Homo sapiens: one gene and its partners. The protein of the gene in region 1 purifies or fractionates together with the protein of each later gene. This does not show direct contact. Each region holds a gene or a part of one and is shown in the gene's direction. Other genes may lie near its edges.

Region 1 (3,500 bases):
AGGCTCTCCCTGTGTCTCCTACAGGCATGTCCCGTCTCATCGAGCTCTGCAGATCCCCATCAGAGAGGAACAGCAGTGACGCCGTGCTTGTGGCCTGCCTGGTGAGTTCTCAGTCTTCCCCCAGCTTTTCCCCTGGCCTTCGGAATGCAGCCAAGGGGGCCAGGAGAACCGGCTGTGCTGTGGCTGGCTTCAGTAAGCCATAAAACCTCTCTGGGCTTTAGCTTTTCTCTTTAGGATTGTGAACATTGTAATATTTGTTTCACTTAATTCATAAAATCATGATGAAAATTATATGAGGTCATATGTGTGAAAGATGAGGGCTGAGAAACTCCCTCTTCCCTCTGTTCTACCACTACAATTTTAGGAACCAGGAACCTTTGAGGTTCCTGTGGAACGCTAGCTGGTCGTGTCTATGTCATGGTGCCTGCAGAACATGGGAGCTAGGATAGGGATATCCCCTGCCTATTCCAAAGGGAATAAAGTGAGAAAAACCTCCACTTGTCCCTACAGGGAGCCCATCTGCTGGTGCTCTTCCAGCATTGTAGCTCTCTCCTCCTTTGTGGAATAGAAAGAGAAGGAACATGACAAGACAGAGTGGACTATTCAGCAGCCACCTGGATCTTCACCTTGAACACAAGCAAGTGTCTCCTAGGAAGTCCCCACCCAACTTCTTTTTGCTAGGGGTCCACCATGAAATAATCAATAGTACCAGAGAGAAAATGCATGCTTCGTCTATATATTCTTCCCTACTAGGTCTCTAAGGACTCCCAAAGTAGAGTAGCTTCCATTTAGGAACATTTAGGAGTAGGGAAGCCACTCTATAAACACAACCCTTAACTTCCAGAAGAAAGTGCTGGCTCTTGTGTTCAAAGAACATAAGGGGGAAGTGATGGATTTAAAGATCCTTCAAGCTGTCTCACAGTAAAGTCCTCTCCTCAGCCCATTTTGAGCTGAGCTTGTCTCTTTTCTGGGAGTTTCTGATGGGCGTTGTGCCGTTGTAGAAACAGTGGGGCATTGCAGTCAATCAGACCTGTCTTGGTTGTACCATTAATGAGCTGTGTGACATTTGATAAGTCACTCAGTGCTATACATTTTATTCAATAAATGTTTATGGAATGATTCTGCGTTCCATTCACTGTTCTAGGCTATGGGGATACAGCTGCAGGTAAAAAAGACAAACATCTCTGCCCTCCTGCTGTGGTTTTTATTTTGGCACATTCAAGGTAATCTTAATCTTTTTGTATCTTTGGTACTCTGGTGAAGCTTACGGAGCCCTTCTCAGAATAATCCTTTAAATGCAAAAAAGTAAAATATATAGAATTAAAACCAAAGTGAATTATATTAAAAATTATTAAACTATTTAAGTATGTGATATATTAATATATTTGCTTTTTAGTCAACACATCATTAAATAAGACCTAGCAGTAAGCCTAGTAAGTATTGTCATCTTGACTCATGTGGACCATAAATGGTATTTGAAAATATTTTCAACAACTTTCACGGGCTGTGAAAGTATTTGTAATTTCTACTGGGAAATCACAAATCACAGGGTTTGTGAAGATGCCATGGTTTGTTGCTGCATTCACATTGCAACTGAAGGAAATGCTAAGTTTCAGTTACAGGTTGGTGAAAATAAAGATGTAACTTTTTCTCATTCAAGTTCACAGATCCTCTTAATTCTGCCTGTTCTAGCAAGTGAAGTGAGAGGAAATTAACATGTAATGATTGGCCCCAACTACCACTGCCTGACACTGAATAGGCCCTGAGGAAATGTTGGTAGCATTGAAAGCACTTGGGAAACTATAAAACTCCATTCAGATATGAAGGCTTGTGATTATTACAGCTATCATTTTTATTAGTGTGAAGGAGAGCACACAGAAGAGCTTGGCTACTATCTTTAATCACTTGAAGGACTTTCAAGCCGAAAAAGGATTATATCTTGTGGATGAGTTGGTGGATGCTGAAGAGAACCCCTCCCTCCCTAATCCATTCTCCGTGTGGCTTCTGAGTTAATTTTCCTAATGACAGTTTATAATCATGACACTTTCATGAAACCCCCATGGAACCTTTCTGTGGTTCCTCATTATCTCTGGGCCACTGTCCATCTGTTCGGCCCTTCTCAGTCTGGCTCCAACCCATCCCTAGGGCTGCAGACCTACCACTCTCTCCAGGCCCTGTCCACCTGGGCTAAGCCAGAACACCCTGAACTGTGCCGTGATCCTTGCTCCCAGCAAATGTTTTCTCTGTAAATCTGTGTATTAAAATTCTGCCAATCCTTCCAAGCTTAGATCTAAATCTCTCTTCTTCACAAAATTTTCCAGGAGCTCTCTGTGGTGCAAAGCCAGAGAGTACACAGCATGAACCTGAGCCTCCTCTCTTGGGTTTTGTTTGACCAAGTCCAAGGCAGGTTCCATTATCTTTGTCCCAGGTGTTTTAAGGGGAGGCTCTTGGAATTCAGACATAGGCCTGCCTGATTCTAGAGGCCTGCACTTTTCAACCAGACCATCTTGTTCCAAGCCATGCTCTTTCTCTCCCACTCTCTTACAGCACTGGTCTCCAGCACTGACTCATGGAGGAGGATTTGTACTTTTCCCCCTCTAGCCTGGAACCTTCCCAGGGCAGAGGACTTTTTCCAGCATTTTGTATATCCATGGGACCTTGAGTTTGGTGACTATGTATTAATTGATTTGGGGACTGACAGACTTGCTTCCTCTTTTCCTAGCTCCCAGTCTTGGGGGTGTCCATGGTTTGTCCCTAGGAGTGTTCCAACATTTGAGTGTGGTCTCCTGGTTGGTGAGATTCACTTGGAGCCTAGCCTGGCAGATGGAGTTAGAAGCCACCATTCCTGCTCTTCCCCAAGGCGTTTCCCAGCTTCAAAGGCTCCCTTCAGGTAGAGGGAGGAAGTTTCACTTATTGTCTCCCCTGTCTGGGAAAGTGGCAGTGCAGATCATCTCTCCCAAAAAGAATGGATTTTTCCTGAATGAAGCAGCTGTCAGTAGGTTGCCAGGCTTGTTTAATGCTTGGGTGTTTTCAGGCTGTCTGGGAATGAGATTCTAGGATGACTAGCTGTTTAACCCTCCCAGAGAAGCAGAGGCTGAGAGAAGGGTTGGCAAGGGTGCAGGGTCCTTTGAGGCTGCTGCACACTGAGGAGGGGGTGCTCTGAGCTACTGTAGGGTTCATGTCCTGTAGACTTTCTGGGGGCCCTGGGGAGGTAAGGGTGTCTCTTCTCTCTCTGCCGCTCTCTGTTGTGTTTTGGTTTCTGCTTTGCTCTCTTTCTAGGGTTTGCCTTCTCTCTTAGCAGTTTCTCTTTCTTCTTTCCCTTCTTCCCCTCTTTTTATCACCATAACTCCTTTCTCTCCTTCTCTACTCCTTCCTTTTTCTCTCTGCCTCCTTACCTCACCCTACCTCTCTCCTATTATCTCCCCTCCCCCTAAGGGCTCTCTCTTTTATTTTCTTTGCCACTATTTCTTTTTTTTTTTTCCTCCATCTCTTTTTTATAC
Region 2 (3,943 bases), on another chromosome or scaffold:
GGATGGATGAGTCAGTATAAATGAAGAGCATCCCAAGTTGACTATTTTAAAGGGATAACATGCATTTTATATTTGTTAAACATTCATTCTCATTTGTAAACACTTGTATATATTCATGTATTCAAAATGTATTGAAAATTAATTGTTTTCCTTGGTACCTGAAGTCAGTCCTGGGTATTGCAAAGTAGTTCGAAGTCACTGGTTTCCCTCTGTCTCACTTCACTACACACTGGTGATTTTGCTAAGTGATGAGCCAGAAAATGTACAAGTTCCAGAATCAAAGGTAAAACAAAACCCACCAAGAATCAGCTCACTGTTAGCGTCCTAGTTGAAAAATAAGGCTTATCAAAGTATTTCAGATTGCATTAACACTTTTGATATAGCTAGGTATCAGTGTCAACCTCAGGAGAGGGCAACGCCAACTCCTGAAACCTTCAATACAGAAAGTCTAGAAAAATAAGCAAATATACATACAAACAATAGCGAGAAGACTCCAGAAACCACATAAAACCGTGGGAATCGAAATATCCCTTACGTGTGTTCAGTACATGTGAACCCACGTATTTTAAGTGGACGATTTCTCTCTCAGAGTACCGTAGGTAGTGGGGGACGGGGCGCAGAGGGGGAGAAACAGAAAGTCGCCTTCCTCCATGGTTCATTTGCATTTCCATCCAGAAACTCACAGGTCGACCCCAAGACTCCACTCTCTCCCGCCTTTGAGAAGCCGGACCGGCATCGGCGGCTGCATCCTTCTCCTCCTCCCCGCTCTATTTTGGGGCCCCATGATCTCATGCCCTCTGCAGACCACACGCTGCAATTCCAGCCCAGCCCGCGCCGCGAGGCCACGCAGGGCGATTCCTGCAAGTGTCGGGAGGGTGGCCGGGGCGCGGGGAGGGGACGGCTTGGGGGGAAGTTTAAGACACGCCCACGTAAGGGACCCAAAATAACCGACACACAGAGTGCCCGAAATCAGACAGGAAGCCAAATAATCCGGGGCGTTGAGTCGCTTTGCCCTGACTGCGAGAGCCGGGTGTAGGGCGGGGAGCCAAGGATCTGACCGCGAGGGGCGGGCGCGGCGGGGAGGGGCGGGGCGGGGCGGGCGGCGCGGGGCCTATTAAAGGCGCGGCCGGGCAGCGGGGCCGGAGCGGCCGGGGCCACGATGGAGCGCGACGGCTGCGCGGGGGGCGGGAGCCGCGGCGGCGAGGGCGGGCGCGCTCCCCGGGAGGGCCCGGCGGGGAACGGCCGCGATCGGGGCCGCAGCCACGCTGCCGAGGCGCCCGGGGACCCGCAGGCGGCCGCGTCCTTGCTGGCCCCTATGGACGTGGGGGAGGAGCCGCTGGAGAAGGCGGCGCGCGCCCGCACTGCCAAGGACCCCAACACCTATAAAGTACTCTCGCTGGTAGGTCCGCGGCCAGGCCCCGGCGCCCGGGAGGGCTGGGAGTACGGGGAGGGCGGCGCCGAGCTCCTGCGCTCTCAGCGCAGTCAGCACCGGGCACCGGAGAGAGGCATGGTCCGGGAGTGCTTCTTCGCCCGCGCGCTCTCCTCCGCAGCCTTTGCAAGTGCCCTACACAGCCGCCCCTGCCAGGTACCTTGCCAGGGCAGGATGGTTCACTCTCACTTGAATTATGGATGCCTGTGAAAGCAGGCTGTTCAAAACGGTCATCCTTAGAAATACTCGACCCCCTGCCCCAGGAGAGTACGGGTTTTTAGAGGAGAAAAATGTCAAACGCGAAAGTTGTTGGTCTTAAGAAGGTGCATCAATGTGTTGCTTCTTTTAGGGGGCTCTGGGCGCAGTATACATGACTTCACTTGGGTTAACTGATTGCAGTTGAAGAGTTAGCGGAGCTCTTTAAGTTTTATTAGGAACTCTACGGAACACTTTTTCCCTTTCGCTCCGTTTTGGAATTTCCTTGCAGGTGCTCAGAAATTCCATGGATGTTCACATTATGTGACTGAAGAAACCTTTATGATTCTTTGCCCACTCTTCTAACCAGAGGCTACACGGTTTGTGTTGCTAACAAAAGCTACCTATTACTCCTCTGCTATTTTGCTATGACATTTGCAGGACCCACAGTCAACTTCATGAAATGTGGGGGTTGGTTTTTATTCTGAATTCATGGTGGGAAGTGCTGATTGAGAGAAGGCCTGGATTCCTGGCTGTTATTATTTGCTGAGGCCTTGCGTAACTGTCCCTAAACCTCAATTTCTAATGTGTGAAAATGGGACAACATCAACTCCCTTGTGCATTGCATGGGATTATTGTGAAAATCAAGCTGAAGAATGTAGGTAGGGAAGTAAATTGAAAACAGCAAGGAAATAGAATCATTTTTATTGTATTATATGGAAATCACAGATTTCTATGTATAGTGTACCCTAAAATATATCCCCTTACATATGATTGAATAATGCTTTGTAGAAAAATTTCTAATTTTTCAAGTCTCCTTTCATTTTGTATGCATTTCCATTTTCACTATATTTGGGACATCATGGAGATGCTATAATACTTTGAGGAATCAATCTTCCTAGACTTAAGAGATGGTGCCGTATGCTTAGTACTTAAAAAGAAGCCTTAGTTTCACAGAATAAGTACCCCAAGCCACATGATGTTTGCATCTCAAGATAAAATTTTGCATCTTGTAACACTGTTTTGAGTCTATAATAACACAATATTGATGAGAACTTAGTCTCTTGAGTCACCTTTTAAAAATTTTGTTAATGGAAGACCTTAGCTTTTACAACCTGATCACTTAAATTGTTTAGTATTAATACCTTGAGGTGTTTCACACACGATGAGGTAGTCGATAATTGTATATGGAATCAGTGTGTAACTCTTGTGTAAAACCATTTCTACATGCCTATAAACCTTTACAGGTTTTCCAATTGCAAAATTCAGGTTTTAAATTTTTCTTGCTCATTTACTTATACATCCACAACAGATATCAGCAAAGGTCTAGTTTTGGAATAAGCTGTCCAGTCTTTGAGACCTGCAGTCAACTGGTCAAACAGCATTCTGTGTGATGATGCTACTCTGGGCATTTGACATGGAAGTGTCCTAGGACTTACTTCCACAAGTAGGACTATTATGGACCTTTTTTATCCATTAATTGGGGTCTTTTGCATCTATTGAATTGGAAAGAATTCTTACTTCATATCTTTTGATGGAACACTGTGAGACATTAACATACAAATGTTACCAAATAGACCTGGTGCGGTGACTCATACCTATTATCTCAGCACTTTGGGAAGTTGAGGCGGTTCCATTGCTTGAGCCCAGGAGTTTGAGACCAGCCTGGGCAACATGATGAAACCCATCTCTACAAAAGATACAAAAATTAGCTGGGTATGGTAGCATGCGTCTATGTCCCAGCTACTTGGGAGGCTGACATGGGAGGTTCAGCTGAGCCAGGGAAAGTTAAGGCTGCAGTGAACTGTGATTGTGCCACTGCACTTCAGCTTGGGTGACACGGTGAGACCCTTTATTGTTGAAATTGCTATTTAGCTACTGAACTGAAAGTGCAAACTCGTATTCTTCTTTCCCTTCCCTACTTCAATACCTTTTTCCCCCAACCCCGCCCCCCCCCCAAAAACTTCCCCAAATAATGGGCTTCCAAATGGAAAAGGCCCCAAAAGCATCCTGACAATTGTCGTCAAAGAGCTCTGGGATATGTCTTCTAGAAAGGAGCTGCAATTATAGAATTCCTTTTGTTTTCAGATTAAACCTCAGCACACTTTTCATAAAGCTGCAGAAACAGATTGAACTAATTGCAACCTGGGGTTGGGATTAGGAGAGGCCCAGCACTATGATCCTCAGCTACACTGTTTTAATTTAGCAGGATAAATAGAAGAGTTGCGTTGCCTTGCCTTTCAGAGGCAATCATGTTGCAGTGGCAATGTAATTTTTACATTACTCTGCAGTTTTCTCAGATAAACTAAAATGATGTAG
Region 3 (3,500 bases), on another chromosome or scaffold:
GTTGGGTCAGGCAGCTGTGCCCCACCACCCCACTGCGGCTAGAGGGGATGGGGGTCCCTTGGGTGGAGACACGGCCAGTAGGGTGAGCCCCGGGCCAGGAGGGATGGACAGGAGCCCGGGGAAGGTCCCACGGCAGAGCTGGTCTGGGGGATTCATCTGAGGCCTTTGCGTCCCCGACCCTGGCCTGGGCTGCCCGCAGTGAGCTGGGAGTGGACCCACAGGCCCGCCCCACCTGCCTCCGGGGCACAGCATGATGCACCCTCAGGAGGGGGGATTGGGTGGCCTCACAGAGGTGACCAGGGGCCACAGGAAGGGTGATCCAGGCAGAGGGAACAGCAGGACTGACGGGGGAGGCCCTGTGTGCGGCAGGGGAGAGGCCTGTCCAGAGCCGGGCCCTTCCAGCACAGGGAGCCAAAGCCAGACCCCACCTGGCCCCAGCCAGGACGCGCTCTGTCTCGACACCTGTCCCCTTTGACTCTGACAGTACAGTCGGGGAGACGCAGAGGACACTCAGACATGGCGCTCGCCTCCACAAGGGGGGCTGGCTGTCAGAAAGCCATGGCCGGGCTGGTCCTTGGCCCCCCAGAGACTCTGGCCTGGCCCACCCAATGCGAGGTGCCAGGGTGGTGCTGGGCTGACCGGGTCCCTCTGTCTTCAGGGGCCAGACCCAAGAGGACGCAGAGGCTGAGCGCGGAGACCTGGGACCTGCTGAGACTCCCCCTGGAGCGGGTGAGCCAGGGACACGGGACCGATGTCAGCACAGCCGCTGCCAGAGCATGGGCAGCGGGGTTAATGAGGCAGAGCCACCGCCACCCACCTCAGCCCCTGTCTGCTGGGAGATAAATGTGCCCTCCTCGGCCTGATGCCCTGCATGGCCCATCTGCCACCTGCTCACCCATGTCCCTCAGCGTCTGGCCAGCTGTGCCCCAGGCGAGGCATGGTCCTCACACATTTCAGGCCCCCATACTCCACCCAGCTGCTATGCCACCACACCCTCGGGAGCCCACAGACAGGGGCACCCACTCCTGCCTGCTCCCTGCCCTCTCGGACTCTGACCCAAAGTGGGCACAGCTGCTGCAGGTGCAGACACTGGCTGGGGTTCAGCAGACCCACACAGACAGATTCGGGGGCTGCCTGGCGTAGGGCCCTGGGCTGGCCCTGTGCCTGTCGGCAGTGGGTGCTGTGTGGCCTGGGCCAGCAGCCTGATCTCTCTGAGCCTCTGGTTCCTCTGGTGTGGCCTGTGTTCAGTTGTGGATGGCCGTCAGGGTTCTGCTGTGGGGACGAGACCCAAGGACGCCCACAGTCACTGTCATTGCTGGTATAAGCCGGCTGACATTTGCGGGGGCCACTGGCCCTCAAACACCCCACCCTGCCTCTCCCGGCCCCAGCCAAGGGCCCACAGCCCCAGTCCTCTCCTCCTCTCTGGGTACTGGGCACCTACGGCGTGCATCCATGAAATGGAGGCGGCCTGGCCTTCCCTTCAGGGTCCTGGGATGGGGACATTGGTTCACAATTGCCCAGGCCACGCACAGCCTTACCCCTCCCCAGGAGCAGAATGGAGACAGCCACCATTCAGGGGACTGGCGGGGGCCCAGCAGGGACTCGCTACCCCTCCCCGTGAGGAGCAGGAAGTACCAGGAAGGCCCGGACGCTGAGAGGAGGCCCCGGGAGGGCAGCCACTCCCCGCTGGACAGCGCCGACGTCCGGGTGCACGTGCCACGCACGGTAGGCGTCTTTGACGGCAGATCCAGGCCGAGAGGGAGGAGAGCTTGGCAACTGCGCCCCAACTCCACTGCCAGCCAACGGGGCCAGGTCAGGCCCGGGCACTCCGGGGAGGCAGGGGTCCCTCCCCGGTGCACCTGGTGCAGTGCTGTCCTGGGACCCCGGTGGGGGCTCTGGGCAGGGCTCAGTGTTTAGCATTGTGGTCGCACCTGGCCTCAGAGGCCCCGGCCACCGAGGAGCCTCCTGGGGACTCTAGGCTGGGCTCTTCTGCATGGAACGCCCCGCCTCTCTTTGGGCCTCAGTTTCCATCTTGTTCACCAGTTGGGGGCTGGCTCTTCCCAGCCTTCAGGTGGCCTCTCTCTCTGACTCCAGCCCCCACCCTCCTTTGTTGGGACCCTCCAGACCCATCCGCTAGTCACAGGAGCGTGTCCCTGAAAGGAACTGGCTGCCTTCACTGTGAGAGCCGGGCTGCACAGATCCCCTGATGGGGTGCCCCTTCCTGAGGTGGCTCTTGGAGGCTCTGGCCAGTGAGGTCAAGCCTGTGTATCCTACCAGGGCCCTGGAGGGGTGGACGAGGCCAACACAGTCCCTGGGGGAATCCTGGGATCTCTGACACCTGGCGGGGGTCCCTGAGCAGAGGGGCCTGAGGGGCACCCAAGGGGTGGGTGGGAAGCCCCTAAGCCACACCCATGGTCAGGCCCTGGTGTGGAAGCACCTGCAGCTCCAGCTGGGCCAAGGTACTGGGGCCTCTCCTTGTGGGTGCAGGGGCCGGGGCAGGACCGATGGTGAGTGGGGTCATGGAGGGGATGCAGCTGGGTGGCCTGTGCATGGCTGCAGAGCCCCTGGTGAGGGGACAGCAAGGGGCTAGGTCCACTCAGGGTTCCTCCTGGTCAGGGGCTGGGAGGCCCCACCCTGCCCTACCCCACCTGGGCTCAAGGTCACGAGTGGAGCAGAGGGTCACAGCCCAGCAAGCAGCAGCAGCGCAGCCTGGGCGCCACCCGGGTCCTCAGGGCTAGCCAGGAGCCCCCCGCGTTGCTGTGGCACACAGAGGTGGCGGGAGGGGTGGGGCAGTTGCAGTGACTGCCAAGTGTATGGGTGGACGGACGGGGGACAGACAGACTGGTGGTCAGACTCGGGGTTGGTGGGGGGACAGGTGACAGGCCGGGCCTGTGCCTGGCAGGTGTCAGCTGTGCCAGGGCCACCCCAGCCACGGGAGAGCTGGTTGGTGTTCAGGGGCACCGATGGGCCGAGTCCGGGTTCGGAGGTCAGCCTGGAGCTCCCCCGAGCAGGACGGCTGGGTCCAAACCACTAGAAATAGTCTGAAATTGTTCTTCCGTGGGCACCAACCTGCAGAGGGGTGTGGGTGCTGGGCTGGGATTCGCAGCCCCCCGAGGCTGCCCAAGCCCATCCTTCCCACCAGCAGGGCACAGCCTACCTTCCCCTCATTCAGCCCCAGCACTGCCCAACCATCTGGGCTAGGTCCATCCGTCCACTGATGGGAGAGGTGTGGAGGGAAGGGCACCCAGGGAGCACCTGGTCAGGCCTTCCCGGGGGTCCCGGTGATCCCCCAGCCTCCCTGGGCCTGGAGGGAGGAGCAGGACTGGGACCCAGACACCTGCCCTGTCCACAGCTGGCCCTGCCCTGTCCACAGCTGGGTCTGCCCTGTCCACAGCTGGCTCTGCCCATCACATCTGGGCCGCCAAGGAAGGAGTGGGAGGCTGGCAGCATGTGTGGGACAGACCAGTCAGCCGGCCTCAGGGGCTGATGGCTTTCTAGAA
Region 4 (3,500 bases), on another chromosome or scaffold:
GTATATTTTAAGAAAATCAAGTGAAATAAACACACATTAGGCCATATGTTGGATATGTGGAATTGATTAATGTTTTCATTTCCAAGAAAATGCCATTATAATTTCCTATGATTTTTAGCATTAGTGATATTTTTTATCATAGAGATTTCTTTCTTTATATCTTACAACACATACATTTATACATTCTTAATCTGGCTTTAATAAATAGTTGAGAACAGTTTGTATGAATCCCAAATACAGAGCATTTTAACAGTGTTATATGTTTAAATATAGAAAAGCCTAATACAGTGATGTTTTAAATTTTATGTGTTGTCAACACAGTATTTCTTCTTAAATAACTTATGAAAAGTGTCTGTGTGTACTTTGGTAAGAAATGTATTTTCAATGTTTCATCAAGAAAGCAGTGATTTATCTTTTAACAGCATATATTCTAAAAAATGAACTATAATGGAAGCTATCTTTCCTTAAAATGGCCAGTCGTGTGAGCTATAATATAGTTCATTGATAGTAAAATCAATAGAGCATTGATTCTAAGCTTAATCCTTAGAGACTGTTGTTTAGAGTGACAGACATAGGCTAGTAAATATCTAGTTCTGTTTAATGTGTTCAGTGCATGAGATTTTGCTATCTTGAATTTGTACACCAAATACAATTTGTACGTAGGGTAGAAAATAGTAGCTATTAACAGACACATAGCACTTTCAGTTATGATGGTGATAAAATATTTGATAAGAGATTCTTAGCTATGAGTTCAGCTGTTTTCTCTTCTGCTATAGTTTAGTTATACCCAAAGCAAATTTAATACTTAAGAGTGCTATTAGGGAATTGTCTCCATTTTCTTAGATGTTCTTTATCAATAACTATACTTTTTACCTGAAGTTATTTCATGGGAGAGGTTTGCTGAAAATGATGATTTCTATATTCACCTTTTTTCTCCCTCAACAAATCTGAAGTAGAATGTGGATTGAGAATAGATTCAGGACTTAAGGTTGATTGGACTTCATTTGAATGTTGTAATCTTATGTTAGAGCACTTGAAACCTTTTTACCTATACATTTTCTCATTTAAAATGAATCAGTATTTATAAGATAGATTTAAACATAAATTTTTGATAACATGAATGATAGTTTTTATGAAGTCATATTATTATATCTTGATGTTAATATTCAAGAATTTCGATAAACATTGAAAAAGAATAGCACCAAATTTTTCTGGTGTAGCTACTGCCAAACCATACATTACTTTGTAGACTCTTGTATATTACACAATTTGCTTTTTAAGAGTTTAGTACTAATTAATGTCCTTTGCTTTCAACATTGGTTATTCCAATTTGATGATATTGTTATTAATAACCTAAGTTGATCAGAAGGTCAGGTTTTCTAGATTTGCTAATAAAATATATTTTACATTTATATCTGATGTTTTTCTACTGAAAAAAGAAGTTGCCTGTAATAAATCCTCTGCTTTATTTTTTTAGCATATCTCCAAGGTATCAATTTAATAACTATCAAAGTAGCTACTGCAGTTGTTGCATTTAAATTGATTTACATGTCAAGACTGGCAGTTTAGCAGCTGCGCTATTATTCCTAGATCGGTCAATTTACTTGAGAAAAACCTACTACCGAGTTCTACTGACCTGCCTGACAATATAGGCCCTATTTCTATTCCTGTAATTAGGCCTGCGACTAACTCAGAATATTTTTAATTAAAATATTTTGGTCAATGTGTTGCACCAAATTAGGCCTTTCAGTGAAGATTTAATTCTGGAAATAGTGTGATTAGAATATTTAATGAGTTGTGTTCAATTAACAGGTTGTGTGTGTTGAACACACAGTGTTTGTATGTGACCATTTTGAGTTTTACAGTCATAAATGTTACTCCTTATTTTTAACCTCAAAGATATTTGTTCAATGATTGTCTGACAAGTAAATTTAAATTGAGTTGAAAATTTATTTTAAAGTAACTTTTTTATCCTGATAGTACCAAGAAAGCTGATTTAAAATGCATCAGCTTTTTAAAGGACTAGGAAAGCTTTTACTTGTTAATGTTCTTCTCTTCCAGCAAAAGCCAAAAATGAGGAAATTGCCACTTAATTGTTTACAAATAAACAGTTTTATTGAGAAATCCAACATAAACACTGGTTGTTACCACATCTCTTTTTAATTTGGGAGTTTTTTATTTTCTAAAGGAATATAGCAATACAAAATTAAAAGACACTCAATTTTATAGGCTTTTACCTCATTAAAAAGCTTTGATAAAATCATGTGTATAAATACTTCAGCCTTGAGCCACCGTAGTTTAGGGGTAGACATAAAAGCACTGACTAGAAAATTTATTCTGAATTTGATTCAATTAATATGTAATTCACGGTAACAAACAGCTCTTATCTTGATCTTTCTCCTATTGAGATCCTCCTTTTTGTTGCTGACTTCAATGGTAGAGTCTTTACTATAGACTAGTAGACAGGTAGACTACACGTAGCTCCTTTAGTTTAGATGTCACTCCAGGAGTCACATCTTTGGGTGCTGTAAAAACATGAGATCTGGTATCCACAGTATATTACTGGACACTTTTTTGAAGGGTGTCAGTGACTAGAGCTATCTACAGTGCTTTGAATTTACTCGATATTATAATGCTGGGAACGTACATAAACATTATCTATTTTGGATAATTTGTTTTCTTTTTCCTTTTTGTAATATAGGCACAAATAGTTTTTTTTGTTTTTATTTTAAACTCCCCGTGAAAAACTGTTATATTTGTACTGTAGGTATGATGATATTCTGATCAATGGACTTCCAGATTGGCGACAGCCTGTATTCTACTACAGGCGGGTGAGAAAAATGAGCAATGCTGAGCTGGCATTACTCTTGTTCATTATTCTCACAGTGGGTCATTATGCTGTGGTTTGGTCAATCTACCTGGAAAAACAACTGGTAAGTGTTAGTAATAAATCAAATGAACTAGCCTCCTTAATTTTATATGGAATTTTGGACATTTATTTTTCAACTGATGAAAATTTCTGTTTCTCTCTGTATACTTCTCATTCTAATAGTTTTATACTCAATGTTTGACATATTTCTAAGTCAAGAAGAACCCATGAAATAAGAAAATATTCTTCTTTTAAAAAATGTGGCACTTAAGTTTGTTATAAAACTTTGTGAAAGCCCAAATATCTAGCTGGGAATTAGAAGGTAGAGCCATGTTTTCATTATCACCTTCCAAATAGAAATATTTTTTATTTAAGACTGATTTTAGATTTTTTTGTGTCACAGGCCTTTATATAATGAATGTTTACTTTTAAAATGTTTTAGGTAAATAAATAAAATTGGAAATGAATATAATATTCTAACTTCAATTGGTTAAAAAAATTATTACACTTTTCTTGGTTTAATATGCTACTCTATAGTTTATTCTTTGGGTTTTTATTTATATGTTAAAGATAATCAAACATATTTATCAGTATTCATGAATTAGCATCTGTTTACTCATTCCTTTTGAAG

The links. The genes of interacting proteins can lie anywhere in the genome.
Region 2: the proteins of INSC (region 1) and ENPP1 purify together in Homo sapiens (affinity purification with mass spectrometry; one large-scale study listed by BioGRID and IntAct). This does not show direct contact.
Region 3: the proteins of INSC (region 1) and GPSM1 purify together in Homo sapiens (affinity purification with mass spectrometry; one large-scale study listed by BioGRID and IntAct). This does not show direct contact.
Region 4: the proteins of INSC (region 1) and DNAJC1 purify together in Homo sapiens (affinity purification with mass spectrometry; one large-scale study listed by BioGRID and IntAct). This does not show direct contact.

The regions. Positions count from the first base shown.
Region 1 is NC_000011.10:15,240,423-15,243,922, forward strand, and holds part of INSC (protein inscuteable homolog), read left to right. Parts: intron 1-24; coding exon 25-101; intron 102-1,144; coding exon of another isoform or gene 1,145-1,261; exon of another isoform or gene 1,262-3,318; intron 3,319-3,500. UniProt on the Homo sapiens protein: May function as an adapter linking the Par3 complex to the GPSM1/GPSM2 complex. Involved in spindle orientation during mitosis. May regulate cell proliferation and differentiation in the developing nervous system.
Region 2 is NC_000006.12:131,806,877-131,810,819, forward strand, and holds the start of ENPP1 (ectonucleotide pyrophosphatase/phosphodiesterase family member 1), read left to right. Parts: upstream 1-1,143; 5' UTR 1,144-1,159; coding exon 1,160-1,399; intron 1,400-3,943. UniProt on the Homo sapiens protein: Nucleotide pyrophosphatase that generates diphosphate (PPi) and functions in bone mineralization and soft tissue calcification by regulating pyrophosphate levels.
Region 3 is NC_000009.12:136,348,039-136,351,538, forward strand, and holds part of GPSM1 (G-protein-signaling modulator 1), read left to right. Parts: intron 1-658; coding exon 659-729; intron 730-1,548; coding exon 1,549-1,725; intron 1,726-3,500. UniProt on the Homo sapiens protein: Guanine nucleotide dissociation inhibitor (GDI) which functions as a receptor-independent activator of heterotrimeric G-protein signaling.
Region 4 is NC_000010.11:21,920,231-21,923,730, reverse strand, and holds part of DNAJC1 (dnaJ homolog subfamily C member 1 precursor), read left to right. Parts: intron 1-2,767; coding exon 2,768-2,933; intron 2,934-3,500. UniProt on the Homo sapiens protein: May modulate protein synthesis.